Linked DNA regions of Homo sapiens: region 1 is linked to region 2. Evidence: fine-mapped expression QTL. A gene starts in region 2. The other region holds a variant in brackets. All regions are shown on one strand. Distances are between the middles of the regions.

Region 1 (16,698 bases), 120 kb after region 2:
AGTTGCCAATGCTTCTTTAGAAGTTGTCAAAACATTTCAGCTTCTCAACAACTTTCTCACTAAATCCTTGTGAGAATTAGTGTAAAGTATTATTTTATAAAAGTTCTGAAAACACAAAATACTTCAATGGCAAATTTTACTTTACATTCTAAGCATTCCCCACTGAGGCTCATTTAAGGTGCATACAGGGGTTTGTTCATCTCTGGCCAACCCCAAATGTTACACCGGATGGAAGGAAGGAAGGAAGGAAGGAAGGAAGGAAGGGAGGGAGGGAGGGAGGATCAGCATGCAATGTTAGACATAGCACTGCCCTTTTCTTGACTGGTATAAAATATAATAATAAATCATATCAATCGCTAACAGAGAATTCCTAAAGGAGTAAATGATGGAAAGATGAAACAAAATAAGTATCTTGGAAGCCAGAAGTATTCTGAATATTTGAGAAGGGTTGGGTCTGGGCATGAAGAAAATCCTTAGATAGCTGTAGATTTGACCATGGCAGGACAATCTCTCTTCACCAAGGAGTCACAAGGGTCTTTGGTGCCTCGTGGGGAATACGGGCGGAGAATAGTCCAAATATTCAACATGAACCACGGACACTATGGCTCTGGGAGCCTCACTAATTCACAATTAATATTGCAAAAGCCAAAAGCCGATGCTACAAAGCAAAGAGCTCTATACTCTGCAGGGTGTGGGTGTGCACAGGCACCATGAGTTCACATAAGTGTACATAAGCAGAAGGATCCATCTTGTTTTGTCACATTTTGTGTATGATACTTAGTAACTTTGGATAGCTCTCTCCTTATTACAAAAATAGAAAAATGCTTGAGCAATTTTGGAAAAGTACACAAAAATCACACTAAAAAAAGAAACGAAATTCACTTATAATGCCACAAACAAGAAATATTTAGTATTACTATTGTGGTATATATCTTTGAAGATTTGTTGCATTGGGATTATACTATGCGTAATATTTTATACACTACTTATTCACATATTAATGTGCCCTGAGTATTATTATATGTTACGAAGCACATATTTCCTTTTGCCATGAGTCATTAATGCCTAAAAGTATTTCCATCATATAGATATAAGGTTTTTAATAATATCTTGTGGCTGTAACTATGGGTTACTTTTATTTTGTTTTATGTTTGCTATAAAGTATTAATTCTCTAATTCACACTCATGGTTATTTCCTTAGGGCAAATTCTGGAAGAAAAATTACTAGGTCAAAAAAATGATCATATAAAATATTTTTATATATTCACAGATTGTTCTACACATATGTTGCCTCACTTTTACTTCCCATTTAATTAATTAATTAATTATTCTCAGAGAAAGAGTCTCATTCTGTCATCCTGGCTGGAGTGCAGGGGTAGCCTCAAGCAATTCTCCCACATCAACCTCTTAGTAGCTGGGATTACAGTGTGAGCCACCGTTCCCTCTTTAATTTTTAAGTCTTATTTACCTAACTGTTTCCAACACTGGCTATCATTTTTTCCTCAAGATTTCACATTTCAAAATGTAAAATATATGTATTTGTATTTTTATTTTCTTTACTCAATTGTGAGAATAATCAACTCACATTCTTTTTTTTATTTTGTATTATTTTATTGGTTTATTTCCTAACTACTTTTGCTATTTATGTTTTTATATTAATTTTTTAAAATTATTTCCTGTATGGCCTCTTTATTTAAAAAGAATATTCACTCTTTTATGTTTGGGGAAAAAACTGTATTAAGAACATTTAATATGAGATATACCCTTTCAACTATTTTTAAGTGTACAATACAATATTGTTAACTATAGGTATAATGTTGTATAACAGATCTCTCAATCTTATTAATCTTGTATAACTGAAACTTAAGCTTTTAAACTTTCATTTATGATATGTTGAGATGCAAAAGTTTTGCATTTTTATGTAGGCAAATGTACCAGTTACCATTGTTTTGGCTTATTGTAAGTTATGATTTAACATAAAGATCTAGTTTATTATCAGGTAATAATGTTTGCAGCGTTTCTATTTAAACCGTGATTTTACTACTGGTTTGAAACTTTATCATATACCAAATTCTGATGGCAATGAAGCCTGTTTCTGACATTTTTATATAGTCCCATTAATTTGACTGTTGGGATTTGGTGATAGTGGCATTCTGCTTTGATTATCATGGTACTATTTTATTTCTATTTATTTTTGAAACAGAGTCTCATTCTGTCACTTAGGCTGGAGTGCAGTGGCACAATCTTAAATCACTGCAATCTCCACCTCCTGGGTTCAAGTGATTCTTCTGCCTCAGCCTTCAGAGTAGCTGGAACTACAGGCACCCGCTACCACACTGGCTACTTTTTGTATTTTCAGTAGAGACGGGAATTCAGCATGTTGGCTAAGTGAGTCACAAACTCATAACCTCAAGTGATCCACCCGCCTTGGCCTCCCTAAGTGCTGGGATTACAAGCAGGAGCCACTGCATCCAGTCTTGGCACTATTTTAATATTAAGTGCTGGTGGTGCCCCCATGCCTTTCTCTTCTTTTATAAAAAAGAAATGTATATCATTCACCTTTTTTTTTGTTCTTCCATTAAACTTCTGTATGACTTGAAGTTCCAAAAAGTTCTTGGGAGGTATGTAATAAAATTGAAGCATATTTTTTAATTAATAGAATAAAACTGAAATATTTACAATATTCATACCCATCCTGGAATCCTATGTGTTATTTAATCAAGCCTTTTGTTATGTCTCAAATTATCTGTGTTAGCTTTATTTATATACCTCCTAAACACTTCTTGCTCATTTTTTTAGTCCTTGATTAATATGGTTTGGCTGTGTCCTCACCCAAATCTCATGTCAAATTGCAATCCCCACGTGTCCAGAGAGCGACCTGGTGGGCAGTGATTCAGTCATGTGGGCGGTTCCCCCATGTTGTTCTCATGATAGTGAGTGAGTTCCCATGAGATCTGATGGTATAAAAGTGGTACTTCCCCCTTCGCTCTCCCTCTCTCTCTGTCTCTCTCTCTCTCCTGCTGCCATGAAAGATGTGCCTTGCTTCTCCTTCAGCTTCCGCCATGATTGTAAGTTTCCTGAGGCCTCCCCAGCCATGTGAATCTGTGAGTCAATTCAACCTCTTTTCTTCATAAATTATCCATTCTCAGGTAGTATCTTTATAGCAGTGTGAGAACAGACTAATACACTGATCATCAAGAAAATGTTTTTGACAGCTTTCCATTAACTGGCAATGTGTTACTTTATTCCTGGATAGTTTAAAATTTTGCTGCTAATGTGAATGAAAACTGTTGTATAAAGAATGATTGCTGATAAATAATATAGCTCTTTATTTTTTTCATATATATTTTATAAATATTCAATGTCTTGTTAATTCTAATCACTTTGAGTTATTTATACTTACCTGGACAAAGAATCACATTATCTACAAATAATGAAAATTTTGCACCATCCGTTTCAGTGTTTTTACTTCAAATTAGTTTATTTATAATATTTGGTTACAAATCCCATAATAGAATTAAGAAGTACATATTAGTAAGCCTAGAATTAACCATAATTATTTCTAGCCCTAAGACCCACTTTTGTTCCTTATTTTGTGTACATGTTTTCTCTATTTTAATTGATTTTTAATTATGAAGCTTTGTCTATTTTGATAGATTTTTTATAAAAGCAATTTTTCATATTAATCTATCACTTATATGTACGTTTCTCAAGTAACTCAATTCTGCCTTTACCTTAGTATTTATGCCTATGTTCTTCTTAATTTTGATTTTCTGGACATTTCAGAAGATATTTTGAATAGAACCATAAAATACCAGCCTGCTTGGTGCAAACAACTTTATCAAGTTCCTTTCTGTGCTGGACATTACACTGGTAGCTCCTACTGAATCATGTCTCCCCACATTCATGCCTTGGGTAGTTCTCTCCCATATAAATTCTAGGCTTGGACAGAGGGCTTGCCTTGGCCATGGATGACCAGATATGAAGTCAGCAGAGGATTGGTAAGCATTTGGAGGTTATTCCCTTGGAAGCCAGGCTCCGTATTGTAAAGAATTGTAGGCTCTTTTCCTGCAGATAAAGTGTATGTGGAAAGACCCAGAAGGACAAGATGCCACATGGAGAACCAAGGTGCCCTGGCCAAGCTCCTGGCCTTACACAGGCACCTGAGTGACCCCCAGATGGCAAGACATGAAGAAAGAAAACATGCAATAACCTACAGCATCATGAGAAATAATAAATATCATTTTTATGGCACTGAGTCTTGGAAATGTTTGCTACGCAACTGAAGAAAACGGAGAAGTTTTCTGTTTAAACTTGGTTTGATTCAATGACTTTTCTATTTAGCCAAGCTTCAGAGAAAGCTATCGAGCAGAAAGATATTTAATTCCCCATGTATCAAATATGCTAACTCACAAATAAGGCAGGAATGGCTCTAACCAAATGTGGATTCAAATAACATTCTTTTCTCTTTTTTCCCCCAACAATAATGAGTTATTGCCTCATTTCAGTATCCTTTTTTCAGTGCTTCAATAGAAACTTAGGGGATGATTTATCAGCTATAAACAGTCTCAAAGTTCTTGTATGTCATTTCTAAATCAGATCTGTTTTTGAAAATTCAAGCTGTCACATGTAACCATTGACTGACGGTGATTAATTCATTATGACTTACAAACTTTTTAAATAAATAAAAAATGTGTGTGTGTATCTTCTCCTCAGAAAAATATAACTACATGAAGAAACAAATTATCACACAAAATTTCAGCAGTTTCATGAATCATCTGAAGCAAATTCATGGACTTATTAAAGATAATATGTAGTAAATTTGGAACACATTTTAGCCAACTAATCTGTTCTAAGATAAAAGCTTCTTGGGAAAAATACAAATAAATAAAATAAATAAAACAGAGCTGCCGTAGTTGAAGCAAAGGCAGAGCTTGAAAACCCACGCTTTGCCTCCAGTCCTTCTTTTACCAGCCCTCACATCACACCTCTCCACAGAACAGCTTGTTAATCACTTCTTTAAAATGACATGATAAATTTATACACATAGAGAAAAAGAAAGACAAAGTGAGGGAACTGGAGTCAGAAAAGTGCTAACCTAAGCTAAGAGTAGATATATAATAGAACAAAGGAAGATGGGATTCAGGCAAGTAAGGTACAAGAAAATAACAGATCAATCAATGTGGACGGAGGTTCAACATGAGACACCGAATGATCTGCTGCTTTGAAATAAGTTGGATGACCATATATCCCAGTGTGTCAAGAACAGACCAGGTTTATGCCTGTGGCCCAGTTGTAATTATTAAAAGCTCCCCCTTTTACTCTCAAAAAGATTCCAGTGCAGGAGATAAAGTATATGTTCCTCCAAAGAGGGCCCCAGTTCTCACCACGTTTGTTTGTGGGCACAGCAGTATTGAGATGTACTTGTTTATCCTAAAGTAGGGACTTTCCATCTTAATCAGTCCCTGCAGTACCAGCAACCCAAGAAAAGAGCCACCAGTGTGATGAATACATGTACTTAAATAAGCAAAAAAGGCCGGGCGCGGTGGCTCACGCCTGTAATCCCAGCACTTTGGGAGGCCAAGGCGGGCGGATCACTAAGTCAGGAGATGGAGACCATCCTGGCTAACACGATGAAACCCCGTCTCTACTAAAAATACAAAAAATTAGCCAGGCATGGGGGCGGGCGCCTGTAGTCTCAGCTTCTCGGGAGGCTGAGGCAGGAGAATGGCGTGAACCCGGGAGGCAGAGCTTGCGGTGAACCGAGATCGCGCCACTGCACTCCAGCCTGGGCGACAGAGTGAGACTCCGTCTCAAAAAAAAAAAAAAAAAAGCAAAAAAGAAGTATTAAATCAAGAGAAGAATTCTTGCTAAATTGACAAAGTTTTCAAAAATTATTGCTTTCTCAATGTTAAGTTACCACAGCAGTTTAATGGAAATGCTTTACCTTAGATAGAGGAAAAAACAAATTATGTTTCACATTCACCTTTTCTTCCACACAAGTGAATTGAAAGTTCTAAAGCCTTAAAATATATCACCATTTTAAGTTCCACCCTATAGGATTATATCTTCACACTTTGGTTCTTTTTTCAATTAATGGTCCATTTGTGGAATGCATATGTAGTTATTTCAGTTCTATATGGCTCATTAGAGGGCCTTCTCAGTGACGTGTTTCATTCCTCTTGGTCTAATATGAACGTATTCACTAGGAATATACTATAGAATAACTAATAAAGCAATTTTTGAACATTTAAGAAGAAGTAATAAAGCACAACTTATCTTCCTTAAAAATAATTTAATCTGTTGTGGCTGTTTTAAAGATTTGAAATCAGGAGAAAATCCTTTACAAGTAGCTTTTATTATAACCTGGAACCTGACACCTCATTCAAATGTGCATATTAATGTATAATATATATCAGAGTGACTCCAGTGGGAAGAATAAATGTGTTAGATCGTGCAAGTATAAAGAATGTAAGAATAAACATGAAAACTGTCAGTGGGTCAGATAAGAGGAACCTCCATTCTATTTATCCTTTCCTGAGTAATTTCCAAGTTTGCATAAAACCATGGTCCCATTTAAACAGTGGAGCTGATTATGATTTAATCTGACTTGTGGATAAAATCCTTTGTAAATGTGTTGCTCTTGCTATTCTATTCAATTATGTTTTACTTGTCCTTTTCTATTGCTTCAAGGAGGGTCCAGATTGCACCTTCTTGATTAAGAAGCAATTTCTTCAGCAAAACTCTACTACTTCAGAAATAGTGACAGTTTTACATTGAGAAACAAAACCCTGAATTTTTCATTGACAAGAAAAACCAAATTTTTTTTCTGTAGGAATGTGAGTTATTGCTAATATTATCAACTATTCCTATAGAATATATCAGAAATAATTCATGTAAATAAAGTATTAGATGAACAAGTTTACAAGTCAAAAAATAGATTTTTTTATCTTCTGCTGACTTAAAAGGAAATCAACAGTAATTAACAAGAAAATATTGAATAGAAAAATAAATATTCTAGATGCAACCTATAAATGTGAATTATGACATACATGAAAAGCAAGACTAAGTACTTTGTTCATTGATAAATTGTGAGACTTCATTTGATCACCCGCACGATCACTTACAAGGACATACTTCAACTGTTTACTAAGATCTAGAGCTCCCCTTCACTGCTTTAGACCAAAAACATGTCATTTGTGGGGTAAGTTCCCTCAAATTCACATACATGCTATTGGATCCAGCTCTATTTTAATCTAGTTACATACCATATTTAACATTCAAGTTCAAAAACCATATAGGCAACAGTAAATAAAGCCTTCACTTGCAATGCTAACAATCTTTTGAGGAAACACCATTTTCAATTTATCTCTTACTGGTGTATTTCCACTGAGCTAAGATACACATATTTAAATGAATATTTGGGTATTGATGGCTCTCTTGTTTTCAATATTGCTCAACTCATACGTAATTGAAAGACAGACATCAGACATGCATAAAAAATACTCTTAGCCATATATTATGATTATATATAACTGTAATAACAAAATCTCAAAATATATTGAGTTCCATGCTTTTTATAAACTATACATCCAAACTTGACTTCAAAAGGACTGAAATAGAGTCTAAATAAATGACATAAAACATTTTAATAAGGAACATTTAAATTTGGTTAAATTAGATTAGGTCTCTAATTGTCAGGATGGAGAGTTATAAAGTCCATATAAGACGGAGGCAAATCGGCCATTTAAGACCTTTCTCATTCTTTTGAATCTGTAAGCCTGTGAGTTCTTTCTGTCTCACCTCCCCCATCTCTTCCTTCAGCAGCTGTTTACAGTAGGCACCCAGTCTTAAACAGGCTGGCCTGTTATGAATAAATCATACTCCCAGAAATGCATTACATGACTCTTGTATGGAATCATACGTATTAAATATTTAAGATGTTTATATTCTTTTCTAGAAAGAAGGCCAATTCACGGATATAAGGGTTGAATTACTTCTTGAAATGGGGTCATTCCTATCATTAGCCACCTGAGACAACTCAGACAACTCAGACAACAATGCAATGGAAAGGGCCTTTGTTAAAATGTTAAGATACTACATACTAAGTTACTTCGCTTGTAGAAGCAGGAAGAGAGTGGCAAAAAATAAAAAGGAAAAGAGGCAAAGAAAAGGATAGGAAATGAAAGAAAAAAAGTAAGGAAAGAAAAGAAAAAGGAAAGGAAAGAAAGAAAGAAAAAAGGGAAAGTAAAGAGAAAAGGGAAAGAAAAAAGAAGAAAGAAATGGGAGAGAAGAAAGGAAGGAAAATAGAAAAGGAAAGGAAAGAAAACTGAAGGGGAGATGGGGGAGGGGCGATTAAAAAAGAAAACAGAAAAGTGAAGGGAGGTGAGGGGAGGGAAGGGAAGGGACGGGAGAGAAAGGAAGGGGTTGGAAGAGATGGGATGAAGAATTTGGCTTTGGAGTGGAACAAACAGGATACCTCCTGTGGCTTCATTGTCTGCAAGCTGTGCGACGTCTGAAAGCTTCCTTTTTATATAAAATGTGCCTACCAAATGGGTATATAGCTACTAACAACCAAACTTACCCTTGTTAAGTTATTAATATTAAATGAGGTAATACAATTGTGATATTTAACATTGATCCCACCAGAGAAAGTCTCAAGGTGATTCTATTTAAGTGTCCCAAGTAGAGAGATATAGCTAGGGAGCACAG[G/A]TTTGAATCCTAACATTTTTTACTTACAAATGTCATGGGGATTTGCACCAGGCAGAGTCAGGGAGGGCAAGAATAAATACTCAAACAGGAGCAAAGCAAGTCTTTGGGCAAGGTCAGGTATGTTTCCTACTGGGCAAAAACCCCATAGGACCCTGAAGGATGAAGAAGTGAGGTCCTTAAAGACACTGACAGGAGGAACTGCTAGGACAGATTCTAGGTGGATGCAGTCCATGCAAAGTGTGTGCTCAACTGAAGGTGGGGCAGTTTGCAATGTCTCAGTTCCTGTGTGGAGCCAGGAAACCCAACAATGACTCTACATTGATCATTTGCAAGTCCTCACGTTTGGCTCTTCCCAGACACCAGCCTTTCCTTCCTGGGAAACTTTCCTGAGATCAGCTATTAGAGAATATGCTCTTTCTGAAAATCATCTTTTTTATCTGTCCTTTTTATTTCTTCTTATCCTCAAGTCTTCTTTTTTTATTTCTTTTTAATTTCAGGGTTTATTTCAGATACAGGTGGTACATGTGCAAGTTTATTACATGGGAATACTGTGTGATGCTGAGGTTTGGGGTATAGGTCCCATCACCCAAGTAGTGAGCATAGTACCCAGTAGGTAGTTTTACAAGCCATGCCCCCCTCCCTCCTTCTCCCTTTTAGCAGTCCACAGTGTCCATGTGTACTGTTGTTCCCATGTTCATGTCCATGTGAGTTCATTGTTTAGTTCCCACTTATAAGTGAGAACAAAAGTTATTTGGTTTTCTGTTCCTCCTGCATTAATTCACTTAGGATTATGGCCTTCAACTGCATCCATGTTGCAGCCAAGAACATGATTTCATTCTCTTTTATGGCTGTATAGTATTCAATGGCATATACATATCACATTTTCTTTAGTCAATCTATCATTGATGGGCACCTGAGTTAATTCTATGTCTTTGCTATTGGGCATAGCAAATAGTGCTGTGATGAACAGATGAGTGCATGTGTCTTTTTAGTAAAATAATTTATTTTCCTTTGGCTACATATCCAGGGATGAGGATTGCTGGGTCAAATGGTAGCTCTGTTTCCTTCTCTAGGTATATGTGAGAAAATATTTTCTTCTGCCAAAGAAATGTACTATCTTCTGTCTCTTCAGAAAACCTCTTCTCTTTTCTAATATCTAAGCAAACCCTTTTCTCTTCTTATATCCTTTAATGATAGTGATTAGTGGCTTTTAAAAATTGAGGATGTAAATGAAGGAAAATAAATTTCCTTTGGCTTAATCTTCAAATCCAACTAGATAGTGAGGTGAAGAAGTCATATTATTTTAATGCAATCAAAAAAAAGATGGGGAGAAAAAAATTAAACACCTATATCCTGCTACTTATTTAGAGAATTCCCCATGGTACCTGTAAATTTATTAAGCATTCAAAAAATATTAAAATATTAGGTAATAATTCCATGTTTGTGAACTCAAGCCTCGTTTCACTGGGCTGTCATGTAGAATAGAGTAGTGCTTAAAGATTTGAAGAGTAAGTCTTGGGTAAGTGAACAATGTTAATTTCAAATTACTATTGTTCATAAGTAAATACATGTTTCTCTGTATGTTTGCATATCTTTTATCTCTCCATCTGCTCCATATCCACTGTAACAAAGTGAACCACACTTCAAACATTACAGTGTAATTGTAAGAACTAAAAGTGTCCTTGAGTCCTTCACATAGAGTGGTAGAGACAATGATAATTCAGGATTTTAAAACCTGCACAGGGCAAATGAAACATAGCAACCTCAAGTAGGGACTGCTAGAGTCCCTGTAACCTGTGCTTTGACTCTATGCATTTGTTTCTTAGCCAAAATCAAAGAGATGCCACTAAGACAACTTACCAAAGCCTTTGATATTGTTTGGCTGTGTCCCCACCCAAATCTCATCTTGAATTGTAGCTCCCATAATTCCTATGCGTTGTGGGAGATACCGGTGGGAGATGATTTAATCATGGGGTCGGTTTCCCCTATACTGTTCTCCTGGTAGTGAGTAAGTCTCATAAGATCTGATAGTTTTATAAGGAGAAACCCTTTTCACTTGGCTCTCATTCTCTCTTGTCTGCCACCATGTAAGAAGTGCCTTTCGCCTTCTGCCATGATTGTGAGGCCTCCCCAGACACGTGGAACTGCGAATCCATTAAACCTCTTTTTCTTTATAAATTACCCAGTCTCAGGTATGTCTTTATCAGCAGTGTGAAAACGTACTAATACAGCCTTGCATCAACAAATGGCAAGTTTGGGGAAAATCTTTGTGTCTCCAAGATACTATTCCTCTAAATATCTAAACCCATTTGTATGGGGAAGGCATCAATTACATGATTCCTACTTTCTTCCTACTTTCTGTGCTTCCTAGATTTTCAAGGCTTCTTTTTTTTTTTTTTTTTTTTTTTGACCCTCAGAGGCTTGAACCGCTAATGCTCTGTGTCTCTACTAGTGGCTGAAGCCAATTTGCTGTAAATTTCATTTCTCCTACCATATCATCTTAGATGAATTTTCCTAGATTTGAAAAGCTTCATCATCTTACAAAGCTGTATTATTTTCTGTCCCACCTATTGCATCCTTCTGGAATGTCAATATCCAGAAGAAAAGAACTAGTTTTGAGAAACCACTGACAACTTGGTCTGTGAAAATTTTGGCTGATTAAGAATTCTGCTTCTCCCTATCTCTCATATAATTTCTGTTGCTTTCCATTAACTCTCATTCCTTACTTAGTCCACATTTGTTTCCGCAACAGGAGTTAGTCCTGACATAAATGTCTCACTAATAAAAGAGATGTGACAGAGCTGACAGCTCTTTGGTTTATATTTATGCTTTCTTCTCTCAAGTGGTTTAGTTGTGTCTGAAAATACTTCTCCAAAACCTAAAACTCACACCTATAGTCTGAATGCCTGGGAACACTTGAAAAATATATGAAAATTAAAATCTAAAATATATGATCCATAGATTAATGCTTAACCAGTTTTCTATATAAACTTATTACAAATATTTTTATTGACTTATTTTTTTAACAATTTATTGATAAAAGTATTCCCTTTTTATTCACCATGAATCCTACCTTTGTATAAGTGCTCTCCTACATTTTAACAGAGTTACCTTGGCTTCAGGAACCTGTGGCTTTATGTCCCTTTCACAGATATTTTTCTGTCAATAAATATACCTTGTGGGTGTTCTTTAAGCTCTATGATGTTGCTATTCTAAGAGAGATTAAGAATATGAATATGCAATTATAAAGATGGTTATAGGTAAAGGCAAGTATCATAAAGAAAACCAAAAAGACTAAGAATATATTAGAAGGCAACAGTGGCTCAAGAGAAGCAAGGTGCAAAAACATGGTGGGGGAAGGTCTCCCTTAGGTGCTGAAATTAAAGCTGCAGCATTAATTTGGAGGACATAGCCATGCAAATATGCAGAAGAATAGATTTCAAGGCAGAAAGAAGGCTTTGAGGAGGAAAGGAGTTTGTCCTATTCCAGGGCAACTGAGTCACAGTGCGTGAAAAGGAAAGTAGTAAAACATTACATGGATGAAGGCAAGGAGCCTAGTTAGGAGACTAAATAAATATTCCATGAGAAAGGATGGTGATGGGCTCAGATCACAGCTGTGGAGATGTCAGGAAGTATCTATAATAGAGTCAGGGTCTCTTCTAGAGGTAGAGCTGATAGCACTCCCTAGTGGATTAAATTTGGAATGCAAGAGAATGAGAGGTGTCAAAAATGACGACTAGATTTTGCACCAAATAGGTGGATGGATTATAGCACCATTTACTGACATGAGAAAAGCATATTTGGGGGTGAAAAACAAAAATCTCTTTGGTTTTGCAACATTTTGATATTTGAGACACCTGGTAGACATCTAAGTGAAGGCTGCCAGGAAAACAAATCTGAGCTATGAAGGCAGTAAAGAATAAGATGAGCTGGCTGTTGTCTCTCTGCTGCAAGCACCCCTTTCTGTACCTGGCTCTGTGAGGCCAGGACTAGTTTTCTATACATTACATTTTCCATATGCCCTTGCATTCTGGCTTTCATTTAGGTTTTATTTTTTATTTGAAGGAGATTGGAAAGAAAAATAAAGGTATGAGGGACTATTTTCATGTTTTCTAGTTGCTGCTAGCATTATTCTAGCAGCAGCATAATAGTGGCCTCCAGCTTCAAGCTTCTTCTGCAATAGAAACATCGCTCTGCTTCCTCACATCCCTCGGGGGTACCCAAGACCCCAGGCCTCACTCTTTTGGAGCCAGAGCACCAGCCACTTGCCTGCGTCCCTGGGAGCTGCAAGCATGCACGAGGCCACACTTCCACCTCAGAGGCCCGAGCATCAGCCCTGCAGGGACCATTCTTTCAATCTCCCAGTTTCTCGTAGCATACCCTCTTTTCTAAGGGTAGTTGTTCCTTCCTACAGTTACAAATTTATGGGATACCACAGCTTTCTCTCTATACTCTTTGAGCCCTATAATATATTTGTACACAATTCCATAAATTAGGTCATCTGTATTTGAAATTCTAAATGTAGTTTTTGTTTTCTCGACAAGACCCTGGCAGATCCATGAGATAGATGTTAGATTATATTGATGATAGATACGGTAGATGAGAGAGATGAGAGAGAGTGAGAGAGATTAGATAGATAGATAGATAGATAGATAGATAGATAGACAGACTTTTTTTTTCCTTTCTCTCAACACTGATTGTCTATCATCCCTGAATTGGCTGCTTAAACTAATCAGAAAGAGAGTCTTAGATTACCACTCTTGGATCACAGCTAGGAAACATACTAACAACAAATTATCTCTATTACCTATTCACATCTCCTTCTTTTAATACTTTTTTCTTGTTCATCAATGAGTATATATCAAAACAGCTTACTGTTAAGCTGGAAAATTATTCTTCCCTTGCAAGAAAGTTTCTCTGACATTTTATATCTGCAATTTTGGATGCAGAGGAGAAGACACAGAACTCACTTAAATAATTAATTAAAGATGTCTTAAGTGATGCAACTTACCCATAAGAAAAATATAATATTTAAATAACTATACCCATAGCAGTGCCTCATTTGTCTTCATTTGTCACTGAAAATGCAAGATCTGGGAGGAAATAATATTTGGCATATTTAAATAATTTTCAAGTTCCACTTAAGAAACCATTACAATCATCATTAGTGTAATATAAAATTTAAAGCTACATAAACATACAACACATGCCACAGTAGAAAATATAAAGAATGCACAATCAAATTATAAATGATAAATTTAAAATAATTTTTTCAGGATCTAATCATTAAAATAATCCTGAAGCATGATTTTTTACTTTTGTCTTCCAGCTGATTTATGTACATATACACAAACACACACATACATATACACATAAAAAGGGAAGTTAAAGTTCTTTTACAACACATTTTTGTTTTTATTGTTAACATTCTCTACCCTATAGGATTATGCTCAGCAAACCATAAAGTACAATCAGGATATACTTAAGTTTTTAAAAATTATCACCATACTTCTCCCCTTTTGATGAGGGATTGAGTAAAGAGTTTGGCAATTTGACAGTCACAAACAATTGTCATAAAAACACAGATGTTACCAAACATTAGTGCTGCAAAATCATTTTTTATTAGTATCACTTGCAGCCCTATGAGTGATATCACTTCCTAGTAAGCAAATATTTTTCAGTTAATCCCGTATTGGATCATACCTCTGTCAATGTTTGTAGTGAAGGTAAGCAGTTAGTTTTTGGCCCCAGGACATGCTGTTAGAAATAAAATGTGCATCTTCCACTGTGCCTTGGGGAAGGGTTTAGATATTGGTACATTTTTACATAGTCTTCCCCACGTTGGCACAGAAAGCATCATCTTTTCTTCTTTGGCAGCTCTGGGGTAACATATAAAGCTGGTTGGTACCGAGCTATGGAATGCCAACTGAAGACACCTCAAAAAATTGTTCTGAAGCATAATTCATTTCCTTTGGAAATAAGGATTATCAGTTCTTCCAAAACGTGATTTAATTATGCGCTTACATAAAATGTCATCATCCTAGTACACTTGACATTTTGATACATATTCTGTTCCTGTCATCTATATCAATGACAAATGACAGAATAAAGGCCTAGTCAAAAATTATATCATCCAAGAAATTTTATATAATCGTGGGCAATTAGAATTTGTAAAACATTTAAATGAATTTAGTTTTTCTTTTAAAAATCAGTCAGCTCATAAGAAAGCTTAAACAAGCACTCAATACTAAACCTATCAATCAAGAGACATGGTTGAGAACCAGGCACTAGGCTGAGTCATGGCACCAGCACTACCTTGCCTTTGACCTTGGATGAGCACCTCATCCTCCCACAGATTTCTTCATCACTAGAGGACAAAAAGTAGAAGCTTTCTAAAATTATTCCAAGCAACAAATTCATAGTCTCTTAATATTTTGAAAGTATCCATACTTCTAGATGCTGTAAGAGATCTAGACATAGGTTTTTAACCTGAGACACATATAGTCTATTTTTGTAAGACAGGGAAAACATTTAGGGCAAAATAAAAGGCAATTAAGAAACACTTACTAGGTTATTTACCAGAGACCCTGTGGCAGCTAACTAGCATTATAGGAACAGGAGAAAAGGAGAGGTAATTAATGGAAATCTCTGTTTAAGTTTAATAAGAATATCCATATTATCTTCAGGTTGACTACAACCTACTTTCCTTAGAAAACCTACCATCCAATGGAATTATATACAAAGGAATATATATTTATTGTATACTTTCTATATACCTAATTAACAATGTATTTTACCACATGATTTTCCATTACTATTTCATTCCATCACTGTTGGCTCTTCTTCCAAGCTTTGAATCTCTAAACTCTTTGGAATTCTTTTTAATCATTGGTCCAGGAAGTCACTCAATGTTACCCAGCAACAGAGTGGGATAGGGAAAGCTAGAATGCAGGTTTGCTGACTATTAGTTCAATTCTTCGCTATGCCAATTGCTTCAATTACAGCACTCTCCTGGGTGAGCTCCCTCTCAGCAGTGCATCCTGCACACACTGCCAGAAAAAGTTTTATATCACGCTCTTCTAAAGACCCCATTAGACTATACTAAGCAACACAGGCAGTAGGAAACCTTAGAAATCATCTAGTCCTATTTCTCTATACCACCCACAGACATACCCTTTAGCAACTTCAGAATGATCTGGTCCAGTGCTGCAAGGTGATTACTTAGTGCAGTAATAATGCATATCTTACCTTACCTGATTAAAGCAAACCCTGGGTACCCTTAAAACACATACATATTGGTTTTCTGTTTCATGAGCCTCTCCAAAGGATGGATATCATATCTTTAAACTTCAGCATTCCCAACCATGACTCCTAGAATTCTCTCCAGCCTAGTGAACTGACAACCAAGATATATTATGTTTTATTTACCTATTGCCTGGCTTTCTGCCCTGTCCCTTTTGCAATATATACATTCAGTCTTGAATAGAGTTCCACATTTGCAAATGCTTTTGCTATATCTCAAGTCCTTTCTCTCCTTGGCCTGATGTTCTAGCCTACCTTCTGGCTTTTTTCATGTGTGTGTATGTGTGTTTTCTAGAATAAGTAAAACTTGGCTTTGGTCTCAAGTCTAGAAATTTTAACTACATAGCTACTCCAGAACCTTTATCTTTCCATATCTAACCTGTCAACACACCCAAATATGATGAGAAACAATTGCATTGAGTGAGAACGATGGATTAAGAAATAATTGATTTTAAAAATAACTCTGACACTATCTGCAGGTTTTGAACAAATTGCTTAACTTCTCTGAGCCTCAATTTTTATCTGTAAAGTGGAAATCATAATTATGCCTATATTATAGCTGTAAAGATTAAGTGAGATTATACATATAAAGTATCTGATATGTAATATGCACTAAAAGTGGTAGCTATTTTTGCTGTGATTTTAAATGTGGTTGTAAGGATGGTGATGTTGGTAGAAATGGTT
Region 2 (16,698 bases):
AGGACATAGGCATGGGTAAAGCCTTCATGATTAAACCACCAAAAGCAATGGCAACAAAAGCCAAAATTGACAAATGGGATCTAATTAAACTAAAGAGCTTCTGCACAGCAAAAGAAACTATCATCAGAGTGAACAAGCAACCTACAGAATGGGAGAAAAGTTTTGCAATCTATCCATCTGACTAAAGTCTAGTATACAGAATCTACAAGAAACTTAAACAAATGTACAAGAAAAAAGTAATAAACATGAAAAAAGTGGGCAAAGGATATGAACAGACACTTCTCAAAAGAAGACATATATGCAGCCAACAAACATGAAAAAAAGCTCATCATCACTGGTCATTAGAGAAATGCAAATCAGAAACACAATGAGATACCATATCATGCCAGTTAGAATGGCAATCATTAAAAAGTCAGGAAACAACAGATGCTGGAAAGGATGTGGAGAAATAGGAACACTTTTGTACTGTTGGTGGGAGTGTAAATTAGTTCAACCATTGTGGAAGACAGTGTGGCGATTCCTCAGGGATCTAGAACCAGAAATACCATTTGACTGAGCAATTCCATTACTGAGTATATACCCAAAAGATTAGAAATTATTCTACTATAAAGACACATGCACAAGTATGTTTATTGCAGCAGTATTTACAATAGCATAGACTTGGAACCAACCCAAATGCCCATCAATGATAGACTGGATAAAGAAAATGTGGCACATATATACCATGGAATACTATGCAGCCATAAAAAAGAATGAGCTAATGTCCTTTGCAGGGGCATGGATGAAGCTGGAAACCCATCATTCTCACAAAACTAACACAGGTACAGAAAACCAAACACCACATGTTCTCACTCATAAATGGGAGCTGAACAATCAGAATACATGGACACAGGGAGGGGAACATCACACACTGGGTCTGTCAGGGATTATAGAGCAAGGGGAGGGATAGCATTAGGAGAAATAACTAATGCATGTGGGGCTTACAACCTAGATGATGGGTTGATGGGTGCAGCAAACCACCATGGCACATGTATACCTATGTAACAAACCTGCACATTCTGCACATGTATCCCAGAACTTAAAGTATAATTTAAAAAATTACTCTTCTAGGAAATATATATTAGCAACTTCTGCTTTGTACAATCCCTTATAGAACAGGCTTATTATTATTTTATTCCCCTATGAAATTTAGCAGCTACAGAATATATCTAAATCCCACCAGAAAAAGTGACATCTATACTTTAACAAGACTTTGTTTATATTCATAATCAATTCCTGAGGTCTCCAATTTCTTACTTAGTTTATTAGCTTTGTTTTTATGCAGAAATATTGTGGGCTTTTTAAGGCAGAAACTGTTTCTAACTCATCACAGATCTCTAGAGATTGGCACTGAGGAAGAACACAACAAAGATTTATTTGTTGAATGCATTTTTAAAATAGAAGAAGTTCTTACCTGCTTGCAAAGATTGAAATTAAGTATTAACATGCTTGACTTTTAGAATAAAATATTTAAGCCAATGATCATTTGATTCAGTCATTGTACAAGGCCAGTCTATTCAGCAAAAACAGAGCTTCTCATTCAACAGAGTTATCTGTTCTTATAAAAACAGTTTTCAAAGGAATTAAATATGTTATGTTTATAGTATCTGGATGAAATATTTGGGCACTGAAACTTTTACAAAGATGAGATGTTCACAAGTATCCTTGCTTTACTTTGCCAACACAGAATCCAGTAGCTGTTGCTATAGTTTTAAAAATTTATATTTTTATTTTATTGTTCATTCTTACCTATCAAGTAAGAAATAGATTGATCGTTATTCAATGGCAAAGGTCTAAAAATTATCTTCCTTTACTTTTCTTACGTAAATCATTGTGATTCTCTTGATTGATATATATTTGTTCTTAATCAAATGATACTGGAATCATGAAAAATTTTTAATTATTGGAATTCACTTATATGTTATTAATAGTAGATAAACCCTCCAAAGCTAGAAGTAAAAACACAAGTGTCAAAAGTAAATAGAAAATACAAAGAAAGAATTGTAACAGTGTATCCAAGCTTTCTTTTCATGTTTTTCTCCGATGAACCTCATGCTAATAGAATAATTAAGGATTACTCAGTTCAAATCTCTCCCTAAACTAAAAAATGTGCATTTACAGAAAGGAGCATAAAAGAAATTTCCCTTTCCATTTGCTACTTTCTCCTTCTGTGTCACTCTCTAGATTCTCTCCTACAAATAATTCATCTATACCTCTAGCTTTTATAATTCCTTGCACTGAAAGTCAAATAAGGCATAGAGGGACTCTACATTTTCAGACAATACAAGACCCATATGCTCAGAAAACTGGATAACATTTTGCAAAGACTGTATATTTAGTATTTTTGTGATTACATTTTCTGATATATTCACTGCGTATTATTACTATATATTAGGTTTTCTATTTTAATCTTATATCAAACCCTTTACCTAAATAGATTTATGACATTAAAAGCAGAAACTAGAAATTTTGCCAAACATATTTTATCATGTGTTATTTAACTCTATCTGATAAATTCAGTCACATACATAGATGTCAGAGTAAATAAATATTTCAAGAGAGATAGTTTAAGAATTATATTTTAATTATTCTTACATACATACACACATAAATTTTATGTGCTGTATTTACTTATCATTTATAAAAATGGTTAAAACTGCATGTCATTCTATTCTCTTTTGCATGTAAGCTTATATTTAACCACATTTTAGAGTTTGTTTGAGATTATTTAGAACCATTGTTTCTGACTCAGTAGAATAAGTAAAACTTAGCCAAAATTAAAACATGTTTACTAACTTTTCTGTGTTCTGCAATCACAAAAGTAAGGTTCCCCCAGCTTGGCTACTTTATCTTTCTATTAATATTTTTTGTGACTATATTTATCCTTTTAAACTCGACTGTATTAACTTTACATTCATTTCTCTCTCATATCCTGATCACCATGGGATTGACTGTCAAGAAGGTAATGAAACAAATTTACTGTTCTTGAATAACATTATTTAGGCAGTCAATCTACATATAATGTCTTATTCACCATTATAAAATCTGGACCAGGTGATATACAGAGCAAGGAAATGAGGCTATGAAGGAGAAAAAGAAAGTGTACCCAAATGCCCCCAAGAACTTTAAAGAACCTCAATCTCTTTCTGACATAATCTTATCCCCCCCTTCACAATTTATTTTATTTTATAGTCCAGTGGAAATATTCTCTGCTTTAAAATTTTTCCTCTTCCCTTCCATCTCTTGTGCATGTAGTGAAGACATCTTTAATCTCCAGATTTGACTCTGTCCCTGCTTTCTGAAAATATTTTAGTGGTTCTTTTTCACCACATGGACAAGATGAGCTACGTTCACATGACCCTCTATTTTACATGACACTGACTAATATGCCACTTTTTCTTCATTTATTAATTCATTCAATAAATATTTTAAATGCCTACAGAGGGAGAAAATATAGCAGAGTGATTTAGAACATAGGCTCAGGAGACATACAGTCTACATTTTGTAAAGAGTTAATCTGATTAATAGCTGAGTAAGCTTGAATATGCTCCCTAAGCCTTCTAAGCCTAAGTTTCTATTGATGAAATGAAATGGGAATGGGACCAATGTTATAGGCACCTATGGGGACTGAATGAGACAATCAATGTACTATATGTAGAGTAATGCTGACTACTGTGATTATACAATAAATGCAGATGATCGTGGAGGTAACAGGTTTGATTTCAAGTGGATCACTGTGAATAAGAGCCTAAAAGGGGGCAAAAATAAATAGCAAGGATGGAATTAACTTAGGCACATGTTGTGATAGATCTGGCAAGAGATGCTGTTAGTTTGGAGTAGAGTGGTAATGGAGAGAAATGAACATATTCAAGAAACGATTTGGACTTAGCATATGTAGAACTTGGTGATAGATTCGTTTTATAGGATGAGGGAGAGGAGATGTCAAGAATCATTTACAAATTTTTTATTTGTGTGATGAGATGAAGGTAGATTAAGTTTAAAGAGGATCTAGGGCAAGGGCCAGGAAGCAGAGTAGAAGATCCTGCAATTGATTTTCCACGGGTTGAATGTGATGTGTCTTTCAGTCACCCTAAGAAATGTCAAATAAGCAACTGGATATACTGGAAAGTGTAGCTGAGGAAAAATCATCAGAAGTGAAACTTCAAATCTCATGAATCCTGACATGCAATTTATTCCCCGACAACACTGGTCTTTAAAATGTCTCATAAGTTTTTTGTTGTTGTTGTTTGTTTTGTTTTGTTTTTGAGACAGAGTTTCACTCTTGTCACCCAGGCTGGAATGCAATAGCATGATATCAGCTCACTGCAACCTCCACCTCCCGAGTTCAAGTGATTCTCCTGCCTCAGCCTCACAAGGAGCTGGGTTACAGGTGCCTGCCACCACGCCCAGCTATTTTTTGTATTTTTAGTAGAGATGAGGTTTCACCATATTGGCCAGGCTGGTCTCGAACTCCTGACCTCAAGTGATCCACCCGCCTCAGCCTCACAAAGTGCTAGGACTACAGGCTTGAGCCACCACACCTGGCCTCATAAGTTTTTGTTTATACTTATATATTTTATCTTGATATTCCTTCATTTTGGAATGTCCTTCTCCCATCTTCTTTACCTGGCTACCAGGCTTACATCTTTCAGGCACAGCTGAGATTATGTTTTCTGCAGAGAGCTATGTCATAACCAGGCTAGTGAATCAACAAACTTGTTTTTCATTCCTCCTAGTTAGTTCATTGTTTTTCTTGAGGTTAAATGTGGCCCTGTAACTTAAGTTGTGGCCAGTAAACTGTGTACCACTTTCAGACCTGGCCCATAAAGAAGACTTCTACTCCCTTTTGCTCCCAGCCTGTTTGATGCAGAATCCAGCAGGCCCTAGGAGATTCTAGAGCCATAGGATGTAAGTCTCTGAAACAGCAAGTGAAAGGGGCCCTGCCAAACACATCAAATATATAGAAATGCATGAGCAAGAAAAAGTTCTACCATTTTAAACCACTGATGTTTTAGAATTCTTACAGCAATTATCTTGCCCTGAAATCTTCCTACTTTTTCATGATTATGTTAAGTGCCCCTCTGTGTTCACAAAGCCCTCTGGCATATCTGTATCATTATACTTTCCCACATGTGGTTCCATATTGGTTTATTTGCCTGTGTCTCACAAACTATAGATTTTATGTGGGCAAAGTCCATGTCTCTCTCTTCTTTGTATCCCTAGTTCCTAACATGGCCCCAGAAACCATGAGTTGGCCCTTGGTGAACATTTTTAGAATGATAAAGCGAATGAATGATTCCATTCATTCATCCAAAATTTTCGTGATGTTTCCCCTGAGACCACGTGGATGTCATAATACAAATTAAAACCTATGCAGTATGAGGGTTTCAATTCCTTACTCATTTATTGATTCCTTATTTGTATCTGTCTTCCTTACTCTGTCTCCTAATTTTCACAAATACTCTTGAGTTGTAGAAAAATTGAATTCTCTTCCAATAAATAGTTATTAAATAAATTTTTATATGTTAAAATTTTCTTTTATAACTCTTTCTTATTAAATACCTTCATTTCAGTGCTGCCTTTTTTCCACATTAATATGTATTCTTTCTTCCTTTCTATTTCAGCTAAATAAATGAGGCTTTATGTCTTTATTTTAGGTAAAACTTATCTGCTTTTAGAGCTTCAAAACTATTCCAATTAATTTTTTCAAAAAATGAACAACAAATACTTGGGTCCTACATATTGGAAACAAAAAGTACATTCTATTTTTCCTTAGCCCTGATGCCTTGCTGTTTTTTAAATTCAGCTTGGCATCTTAAAGTGCTGGGAAATAATTACAGAGATCAGAGACAGCTACCCCTCTCCTTGGCTAGGGAACAAAACATGTCAAATCACCATATGCTACCCCTACACTTCAATGCAACCTTCTGAAAACTCATAAATTTCCAACTTCAGCGTTTCTTAGCAACCACTCTAATATTTTCAGCCACAAATTGGAAGCGGGCCCCAGTGAAAGAACACAAGAAGAATTCATGGAAAGAATCTTAAAAACTACTGTGTTGTGCTCAGACAAAAAGGAAGAGTAGGCAAGCTTCCTCAAGGGATATCTGCATGTGGCAGGTGGATTCTGGTCTTCGTAATTAATGAGAGTTGTACTGTATAGCAGATGCTTGAAATATCAACAATTTCAAAGTGAAGCTTAATGCTAAACTGTCCTCATTCATATTTTTTGACATATTTATTGTTTTAGCACATTTTAAGATTATAAATGACTTAAACATTTAGATAAAAAAGAAAAACCTGGCCCCTAGATCTAACTAATATTTTTTCAGAGATGAAACGATATAATCATTTAATAGTTGTTTATCCATTTACTCATATCGGCAATAGGGTGTAAAGATGTCCAAATTTTATGAATCAGAAATTTAGACTGGCACAAGGAAGAACAGATATGCATGTTCCAGCTCTTAATTTTGCCATGCAGATTTTTCCAGCATATAGTCATGAATTCTTCCTAAAGATACTCAGTAAACCAGTGAAAATTTTGACATGAAGAAACATGGGTCTAACAATTAGCATTTGGAAATCAAAGAAGTAGGCAAAGAACATAACAACCAAAAATTAGAATTGCATGTCGAATCACCATATGCTGCCCCTACACTTCAATGGAACCTTTTAGGTCTGAATCCTAACCCACTACCTATTACTGTACTCAAGGTACTTAAACTCTTTCAGCTCTAAGATGGAGACGAATACCTTGCTGGACTGTCATAACAATTAAGTGAAACTACATGTGAAGTTCTAAACTACTATTACTTAATGACTATTATAATTACTATATTAACAACTTGTATCAGTCCTCCTAGTTATCTAACTCTTCTTTGAAAAAAAAAATGGTGCAAAAATCTATTACTCCTGGAAGTCAATGACTCTGCATTTCTGATAATGCCAGCATGGAATTCTTCCAGCAGCAGCAGAACTTGTCAGGGCATGTGTTAACCATTTATTCTTCCACATCCCCTAACAGCAGACTACTTTCTGCTGCTATTAATTGTATTCTAATATATCAAATATCTTTGGCTCATCTATTTTCCCTTTTTTTTCTCCAGAGATTCTCAGGCCACTGTAGTAATCAAACTAACCAAGTGGGTGAATAATGAACCAAAATGTCACATATCCAGCAGGAAAATGTATACAAAGTAATCTCTTCTCCTTATCCTCTGCCAAAATCCTGCTCCACTATGGACTGAATGTGCTCCCAAAGCAACACGGTAATGCCTCTATCTCTAAGTGCTTTGCCTCTGGCTCCTTTTTTCATGCCTGCAATTTTTCTATGAGAACCATCTTCCAATAGATGTTAACTTTTCTACTTATTATTACCCAGAAACCAAGAGTTTATCCTTTCAGGAACAAGGGAATACTTTTCTAGACTTCTAATACAGTTTATATTTAGTTTGAAGCTTTTCTCTGAGAACTTTATAACTCAACTGAATATATTCTGTTAGTGACTAACACCAAAGATTTAGGATATAATATTTTTTAACTTTAATATCTTTTCACACGAATTTCATTTGATCCTTCAAAGCGCCCTGCAAATTAGACTAAACAGGTACTATTTGCACTCAGAGAAAGTGAGGCTAAAATGACTTACCCAAGGCTATGAAGAATGTTAAAGGTCTGACTTGGAGCTGTCTATCAGTCCAGTGTCCTTTCTAAAATATAATCATAAATTTTCTTAGCAAAATAGTATCTCATCTATAAAGGACAGAGAAGTTTCACAGCATGCCTGTAATGTTTCACATATTGAGAGTTTTGTTTTGTATATAGGTTCTAATAGTTTGACTTTCTTTGTAATCTCAAGTTGTGTGTAAAAATAGTGAACTGAGTGCACCAGACAAATGCTGATTTTAGTTGTTGTCATAAGAACTATATACTGTTTAAAATAATTGTGATGAATAACATGACCTTATATTTATACATTTTAATAATTTTTTTAGAATACTTTTACAATCATTATTATATCATTTGAAAAATCACTACAATATTGTGAGGAAGGTGAAACAATGATCACTCCCATGGGAAACGTTTCTTCCATAAATCTATGTTAAAGGAATAATCGGAAACGAGTGAACTCTTCATTTTTTATCAGGAGGTTGACTATTATACTGGACCTATTTCTTCTTGAGGTCGAGTCTTGTGACTTGGTGTTAAAGATTCTTGTAAAGATTCTACTACCTCATGCTCCATTTTAGCTTAAACATTGTCATCACCTAAATCAGGCATTTAGCACTGATTTTACTTCATGACGGTGTGCAAGCCATTGAACCAAGAGAAATGTGTAGGTCTGGCTTCTGTAACCTAGGAACTTACATTTTAACTAGAATACATTGAGGCAGGCATATGAGTGAAACACACACACACACACACACACACACACGAATAAAATGTATTTAAAACAATGAAAATTTGAGATTACAGATAACAAATGATTCTATTTAGGGCTAAAGATAAATACAGCAGTCCTCCGCACTCACATTTTCTGAGGTTTCACTTACCCATGGTCAACCATAATTGAAAATATTAAATGAAAAGTTGCATAAATAAACAATTCATAACTTTTAAATTGTGTGCTGTTCTGTGTAATGCAATGAAATCTCACACTATCCCATTGTTAAGGCTTTTTCACTCCCGTAGTTCGGTGAGCAGGAGGAAGTAGCACCCAACGGCTTCTTCTCTACCGTTGTTTGGGGAGTTGGAGGGAGTGTTACAGCTCTTTTAACTCCCACCACCCGCTGCTCAGCAAGCAGGAGCACTACACCTCTTTTGCTCCCGCAATTTCGGGGAGTTCCAGGTTCCTGTCCTGTAACCAGAAGGAATAAGGTATGTGGATACCAGAGAATGAGTAAGGCAGAGTAGAATTTTACTGAGCAACACAAAGAAAGTTCTCAGCACTGTGAGGGGATGTGAAAATGAATAGCCATCTATGAGGTTGAGTCTAGGGTTCTTACACACTTAGAATGGGGAAGTGCATGCTGATTGGTCCATGGGTGGTCTTGGAACAAGCACCATTTGATTGGTTGAAAAGCATCATTCAGAAGGAACCAATAAAGAGAGAGGGGGTAAGAAGGGGATACAAGTTCTTACTCTGGTCATGAATTTTATTCGGAACTGTCAGCTCGGGTTTGGTTGGTTGAAAAGCATCATTCAGAAGGAACCAATAAAGAGAGAGGGGGTAAGAAGGGGATATAAGTTCTTACTGTGGTCATGAATTTTATTCGGAACTGTCAGCTCGGGTTTTCAGGCTATAAGCTCTTCTTGGCTTGAAGGTCAGATTTCATCTGAGACCTGTCTCTGTCTGCCTAGGAATTTTCTGTCTGCCTAGGAATTTTTCTGTCTCCTGTCGCTATCACCACTCTGTCCTGCCTGGGACATGAGTCTTCCCTTTACCCAGCATATCCTCACTGTCTACACTACCCACCTATTAGTCACTTAGTAGCAGTTTAGGTTATCAGATCAACTGTAGTGGTATTGCAGAGCTTGTGTTCAAATAACCCTTATTTTACTTTATAGTAGCCTCAAAGCACAAGAGTAGTGATGCTGCATATTGTTATAATTATTCTATTTTATTATTTGTTATTGTTGCTAATCTCTTACTGTGTCTAATTTATAAAGTAAACTCTATCACAAGTATATAATGCATAGAAAAAAACATAATATATATAAGATTCAGTACTAGTTGTGGTTTCAAGCATCCAACAGGGGTCTAGGAACATATTCCCTGCAGATAAGGGTACTGTATTTTCATGTGGAATCCTGAAAAGTTAGAAGCCCAATGGCCTATAAATCACCAACAATAGTTAACATACAAAAGTTGAGGGTAAGCTGTGTTCAGACCTTGCAAAGTGCAGTTGTCAGACCTCTAAATAATTTGGGAAGAGTTTGAAAGGGGAAAAAGTAGGGACTATTTAAATAAATACTTAAATAAAAATAGAGAAGCTAAAGGAAGGAAAAAGTAGAGGAAACTAGAGTAAGAATAAGCTGCTGGGATAATTCTAAAAAAATGAAAAAGGATCTTGGCAGATTCTCTCTCTCCAGAAAAAATAGCAATTCGAGATGAAAATTATTAAAAAATAATGTAACATCTGGAAATTGTCCTAGAAACACCAGAAAAAAATGCATAAAAATTCATTCAAGAAAAACTATTTAATTTTTTTAAGAACAAGTAGAGTCTGTGGAATTCTAGCCAAGATTCTTTAATTACCAACCTCCGTTTCCCAACTTCACATTACAAGAGCTCTACCCCAGGCACGTGCAGTCAAGAAGACAGGGATCTCTCTGTCTCAGGAAGAGCAGGCTGCTAGCATTTCTCCTCCTACCTCCACAAGCTCTATTCTAGGAAGGTATGTGGTGAAGAAGACCTGGGACTTTCTTCCCCTATTTCACCCCCGCTCATAGTGTGGAAGTCCTATTTCAAGTAAAGAAGGCGGATGATACTGGGGCCCAGCACACTGGTAGCATGGAGGTTCTGTACCAAGCAGGGCAAGCTAAGACAATCAAGAGCTGCCCCTTACACACTCTAGTGCCAACTAGTAAGTAGACTAGGGATGTCACTCTGGGAGAAACAGATTTCTGCCCCCAACTGTGGTGCAGTCGCACAATGGTTCTGCCCAGGTAGAAAGGCAGGTAATAAGGATGAGGAGTTCTTCAGCTCTGCCTGAGGGGACTGGCTTTATTTGTAACAGTGGATGGAGATCTCTATGCATGGGAGTGTTGCCAGAAACAATAGCTATCTTTGTGGAAAGCAATTACAAGGAGGCAGTAACTCTGAAACAAGTAAAGTTGCAGAGAAACCAGAAGTTCAATAAAAAGAACCAAGAAAAGAGATAGCCAAGAAGGGTTGCTCTGTGATTATCATCAGCTCTAAGGGTGGAAAGGCTTTCTCCTTGCACTATGCTGCATCCACTCAGGAAGCAAGCAGAACAGAATGTGAGTCAGGCTTAAAAACATTTCCCAAACCACAGATAGACCCATCAGCATAGGATGGAAGTCTAAATGGCACCAGGAACTAACAAGGTTAAATTATACCAGGCTCTTCTGATCCTAGAAAACAGCAATAAATACCAAAAGGAGGGTAGTTAAAGAAATTCATCACACTTTATGTTCTGGAAATGGCTTGCTGCAAAGAAGTACCCTTTCTCATGTGACTTAGATAGGACTCACGGATGGCCCTCTTGTGTACCTACAAGACCAGATACAAACATTCTAAATTCTTATTCTTTGCCTCATATATATTTGCTGAACTGTTTGTCCCCATAATCAATCAGAACCAAATACTTGTAAGCAAACTTTAGATTTCTCTCCTTCCTACAGATCTCTGAATTTTACTCTCAGCCTCAGCCGGCATGCAACCTTTCCTAAATTTCTCCTCTTGAAAATAAACTGACATCAGGATAAAACATTCTCTGATCTGTTATCCCATCATGCCTCCCTTTCTTCTTACATCTGAACATCCTGTTCTTTCTAGCCTTGTTTACTCCTCTCTACAAAAGAATAACTCTTTTCACATAATCCTTAAGATGTTTGCTATGGTTGTTTTATTCTCTGTATTGCAATAGTCCCTTCTTCCCCTTTGCAATAATCCGTCAAAAAAGTCTCTCCTTACCTAAATTTGGATTTTTAAAAATTAAAAAAAAAATGACAGTGCTTAAACATAACTTCTGACCAGATACCGAGTGAACAAAGATCTTCTCTGATCTAGGAAATATACCTGGGAAGTCAAGATTTAAAATAATATCACAGTCATCTGAGAGTCTGGAAGACTATGCTTCCCAGAAGAAATCAGGGAGAAAAACCTCCAAGCTGAAGACAGGACAAAATAAAATGAAATAAAATAAAATATCTGAACTGATATAATAGACTTTATGCTACACATGTATTTAAAAGAGTAATAGGTAAAATTCTAACCAACTGGGGGTCGTAAACACAATTTTAATCAATAAACAGGCTGTCAAACCAGAGGCTTCTCCCAGAGAGCCAGGATAAAAGATAAGCAAAAAGGAAAAAATTAACAATTCTAGCAGATACATCAGAGGCTGTACATGGCAGAGGAAAAAGGCTTTACAGAATTTATTAAAATAAGTCCCTAGATAAATGACTATGCAAAAAACAAAAACAACACTCCTAAGAAAGTCAGTATACAATGTTATACCAATATATTATCTAAAATGTATAGTTATCAACAAAACATTAGGAAATATGCAAGGAAATAGGAAAATATGACCCATCCCACTTGGGGGAAAAGCAGCAGGCATTAAAAATTGCCTTTACAGAAAATTAGGTGGTAGGCTTAGGAGACAAAAATTTCAAATTGTCTATCATAAATATGTCCAAAGAACTAAAGGAAACCATGTTTAAAGAATTTAAAAGATATTTAAAGACAACACGTTATCAAATACAGAATGCTAATGAAGAGATATAAATTATTGAAAATAAAAGAAAATTCTGGAGTTGAAAAGTACAAGTGAAATGAAAACTTCACTAGCGGGGCTGAAAAGCAGATGTGAACTGGTGGAAGGAAGCATAAATAAATTTGAAGAGAGATACATGGAGATGATGAAATCTGAAGGAAAGAGAAGAAAATAAAGAAAAATGAACACACTCTGAGAGAAATAAGGAACACTATTAAATACACCAATGTAGTAATGGGAATACAAAACAACAGGAAAAAAAATTTGAAGAAATAATGGCTGAAAACTTTCCAAATTATTGGAAATATTATAGTACACATTAAAGAAACTCAATGAACTTCAAGTAGGATAAATTCAAAGAAATCTAGAGAGAGACACCTTATAATTGAAATGTTGAAAGACAAAGAGAAAGAGAAAATCTTGGAAGCCGCAAGAGAAAAATTACTTATGTACAAGGGAACTGTAGTAAGATTAACTTTGGACTTCTTATCAAAAACAATAGATACCAAAGGCAGTTGGATGACATATTCAAAGTGCAGAAAAAAAATGGCTGTCAAGAATCTTACATTCAGCAAAATATCTTTCAAAAATGAAGGTGAGAAAAAGATATTCCCAAATAATCAACAACTGAGAGAATTGGTTGCTAACAGACCTTCCTTACAGGAAATACTAAATGTAGTTCCTCAGGCTGAAAGCACTCAGCAACAGATAGTAATTCAGATCTAGATGTATTAAGAAAAAGAGTATCAGTAAAGGTAATTATGTAAGTAATTATAAAGGACACTATAACTGCATATTTCTTCACCTTTGTCCCCTTGACTAATTTAAGAATTAATTGCAAAAATCAATGTGTATAAAATTGAAAAGGTTTTTAAAAATATAACTAGCAGAATAATACTCCTTCCAAAATGTCCACATCTTGATCCCTAGAACCTGAGAATACCTTACTTTACATGGATAAAGAGATTTTGCAAGTGTGATTAAAATAAAAAATCTTCAGACAAGATTATCCTGGATTACTCAGATCTAAGATGAATCTTGAAATGTAGAGACCATTTCTTGAGTTGAAATCATTTAGACATCAGTGTGATGATGGAAGAAAAGTCATAGGGATGCAATGTAAAAAGAACTTGATCTGCCAAGACTGGCTTCAAAGATGGAGTAAGAGAACCATCAGCAGGTGTGGACATCCCCTAGAAGCTGGAAAATGGAAAGGAACTTCTTCTCCCCTAAAGCCTACAGAAAGGAACACAGCCCTTGATCTTTCCCAATGAGACTCCATCTCAGATGTGTTACCTAAAGAACTGTAAGATAAAAATTGTTTTAAGCTACTAAATTTGTGATAAAGTTATGGCAACAATGTACAACTATTAAAAGCAAAGAGATCCAGTCAGAATATGCAAATATATAGAAGTAAAAGATTAATAGTTGCATAGGGCTTGAGTAAGTGTGGAATAATGAGTGCTAATGGAGTTTCTTTTAGGGGACACAAAAATATTTTAAAATCAGATTGGGGTAATTTTTACACAGCCCTGTGACAAACTCAAAATCACTGAATTGTACAATTTAAATGGGTGAATTGGATAGTATGTGAATAATACATCAACAAAGCTATTTCTGAAAGAATATGATACTGCTTTGAGAATTGGGCATGTTTCTTTTGACTAAAAGAGAGAGATCACCTGTTTCTAAATGAAATAAAAAAATGTTATTTATCGGAAAAAATGGGGCATTTTACTGAAATAAGTAATGGGATGTATAACTATGACTTAGTGAAGGAAAGAAGGACAAAACCTCTGGAATTTTGATGAGGAAGATTAGAGATATTTTCCAGGTGCTACTCCAGCCTTTTCAGGCTCTGTGCCCTTGCATTTTCATAAGATAATATGCATTGGGCCAAGTGGTCAAGGAGATTTTCCTCTGGAAGTAGAATCATTTGACTTTGATTTTTTTTAAAACCACTTCCCCACTAAACTAGGAATACAGGGAGGCTTCTTCCCTTAAAGAGTATCTACAACAAACCTACACTAACATCATATTTAATGGTGAGAAACTCAAAGATTCCCTACTAAAATAAAGGCAAGAAAGTCCCCTGTCACCACTGCTCTTCAGCATCACTGACAATTCTAGCTAATAAAATAAGACAAAAAAATAAACAAAAGGTATACAGATGGGTAAGTATAAAATGAAACCGTCTTTATTCACAGGTGACATGATTATCTATGTAGAAAAGCCAAAAGAATCGACAAAAAAAAATCTCCAGGAACTAATTGCTTAATTATAGCAAGTTGTTTAGAATACAAGGTTAATATACAAAAGTCAAATGCTTTCTTATATACCAGCAATGAACAAGTAAAATTTGAAATTACAAACACAATATTATTTGCATTAGCACCCCAAAAATAAATACTTAGGTGTAAATCTAACAAAATATGTACAAGATCTGTGTAAGGAAAACTACAAAATTCTCATAAAAGAAACCAAAGAAGAATTCAATAAATGGAGAGATGTCCCATATTAATGAACAGGAAAGATCAATATTGTCAAGATGCTTGTTTTTCCCAACTTGATCTATAGATCTGATGTAGTTCCAGTCCAAACCTCAGCAAGTTACTTTGTGGATATTGACCAGTTAATTCTGAAGTTTACATAGAGAAGTAAAAGAGGCAGGATATCCAACACTGTATTGAAGAACAAAGTTGGAAGACTTACATTACCTTTCTTCAAAACTTACTATGAAGCAACAATAATAAAGACAGTGTGGGCCGGGCGCAGTGGCTCACGCCTGTAATCCCAGCACTTTGGGAGGCCGAGGTGGGCAGATCATGAGGTCAGGAGATCGAGACCATCTTGGCTAACATGGTGAAACCCCGTCTCTACTAAATATACAAAAACTTAGCCGGGCATGGTGGTGGGCGCCTGTAGTCCCAGCTACTTGGGAGGCTGAGGCAGGACAATGGTGTGAACCCGGGAGGTGGAGCTTGCAGTGAGCCAAGATCATGCCACTGCACTCCAGCCTGGGCGATGAGCGAGACTCCATCTCAAAAAATAAATAAATAAATAAATTAAATTAAAAAGACAATGTGGCATTAGTGAAAAAATAAACAGATCAATGGAACAGAATAGAGAGAGCCCGGTGACAGATCCACATAAATAAAGTCAACCAATCTTAGAGACAGAGAAGGAAAGGCAATACAATAGAAAAAAAGATAGTTTTTCAACAAATAGTGCTGAAATAACTGGACATCATATTCAAAAAATAAATCTAGGCCCAGATTTTAAACACTTCCTTAAAATTAATTCAATATAGATCCCAGACCTAAATGTGAAACACAAAACCATAAAACTCCTAGAAAAATAGCACAGGAAAACTATAGATGACATTGTACTTAGCAATGACTTTTAGAAATAATAACATCGAAGGCACAATCCATGAAAGAAAGAATTAATAAACTCTATGAAAGACACTGTCAAGAGAATGAAAAGACAAATCACAGATTGGAAGAAAATATTTGCAAAAGACGTCATATAAAGAATTGCTATTAAAATACAAAACAAATTCTTATAATTCAGCAATAAGATAACAAACAAGCAGTTTTAAAATTGAGCCAAAGACCTTAACAGACACTTCATCAAAGAAGATATATAGATGGCAAATAAATATGAAAAGATGTTCTACTTCATATGTCACGAGAGAAATACAAATACAAATTACAGCAACAATGAGATAACACTACACATCTCTTAGAATGGCCAAAATTCAGCATACTGACAATATCAAATGCTGAGAAGGATGGGGAGCAATAGGAACTACCATTCATTGCTGGTGGGAATGCAAAATGGTAAAGCCACTTCAGAAAACAGTTTGGCAATTTCTCAAAAAATAAATAAATAAATAAAATAAACAAACACACTGTTATTATACAATTCAGAAATCACGTTCCTTGTTTTTTTCTCCCAAAATGAATATATATGTACACACAAAAGCCTGCATATGGATTTGTATAACAGCTTTATTCATAATTGCTAAGATTTGATAGGAACCAAGATGTTCTTCAGTAAGTGAATGGATAAACTAAGGTATATTCAGATAATGGACTATTATTCAGCACTAGAAAAAAAAATTAACTATCAAGCCATGAAAAGGTATGGAGGAAACCTAAATTCATGTTACTAATTGAAAGAAACTAGT

Which allele goes with the higher level. Alleles are on the strand shown, and positions count from the first base shown. SD is a standard deviation of normalised expression in the study named.
As copies of G replace A in region 1, the expression in testis of the gene that starts at base 9,175 in region 2 goes up (large effect, 1.0 SD a copy in GTEx).

The links.
Region 1: its variant is fine-mapped to the expression of LINC02839 in testis (GTEx, PIP above 0.99).

Annotation. Positions count from the first base shown.
Region 1 is chr8:82,037,654-82,054,351 of GRCh38, reverse strand. No RefSeq gene overlaps it. Among named protein-coding and RNA genes, the nearest start is that of LINC02839, 110 kb to the left of the region's middle. The variant G/A (reference allele first, on the strand shown) is at 8,713.
Region 2 is chr8:82,152,990-82,169,687 of GRCh38, reverse strand. It overlaps LINC02839 (long intergenic non-protein coding RNA 2839), which reads left to right and starts at 9,175. Exons shown (of 3, transcript NR_183481.1): 1 at 9,175-9,271. LOC105375930 (a long non-coding RNA gene) reads right to left here and starts at 8,919. Exons shown (of 4, transcript XR_929113.2): 1 at 8,595-8,919; 2 at 7,691-7,751.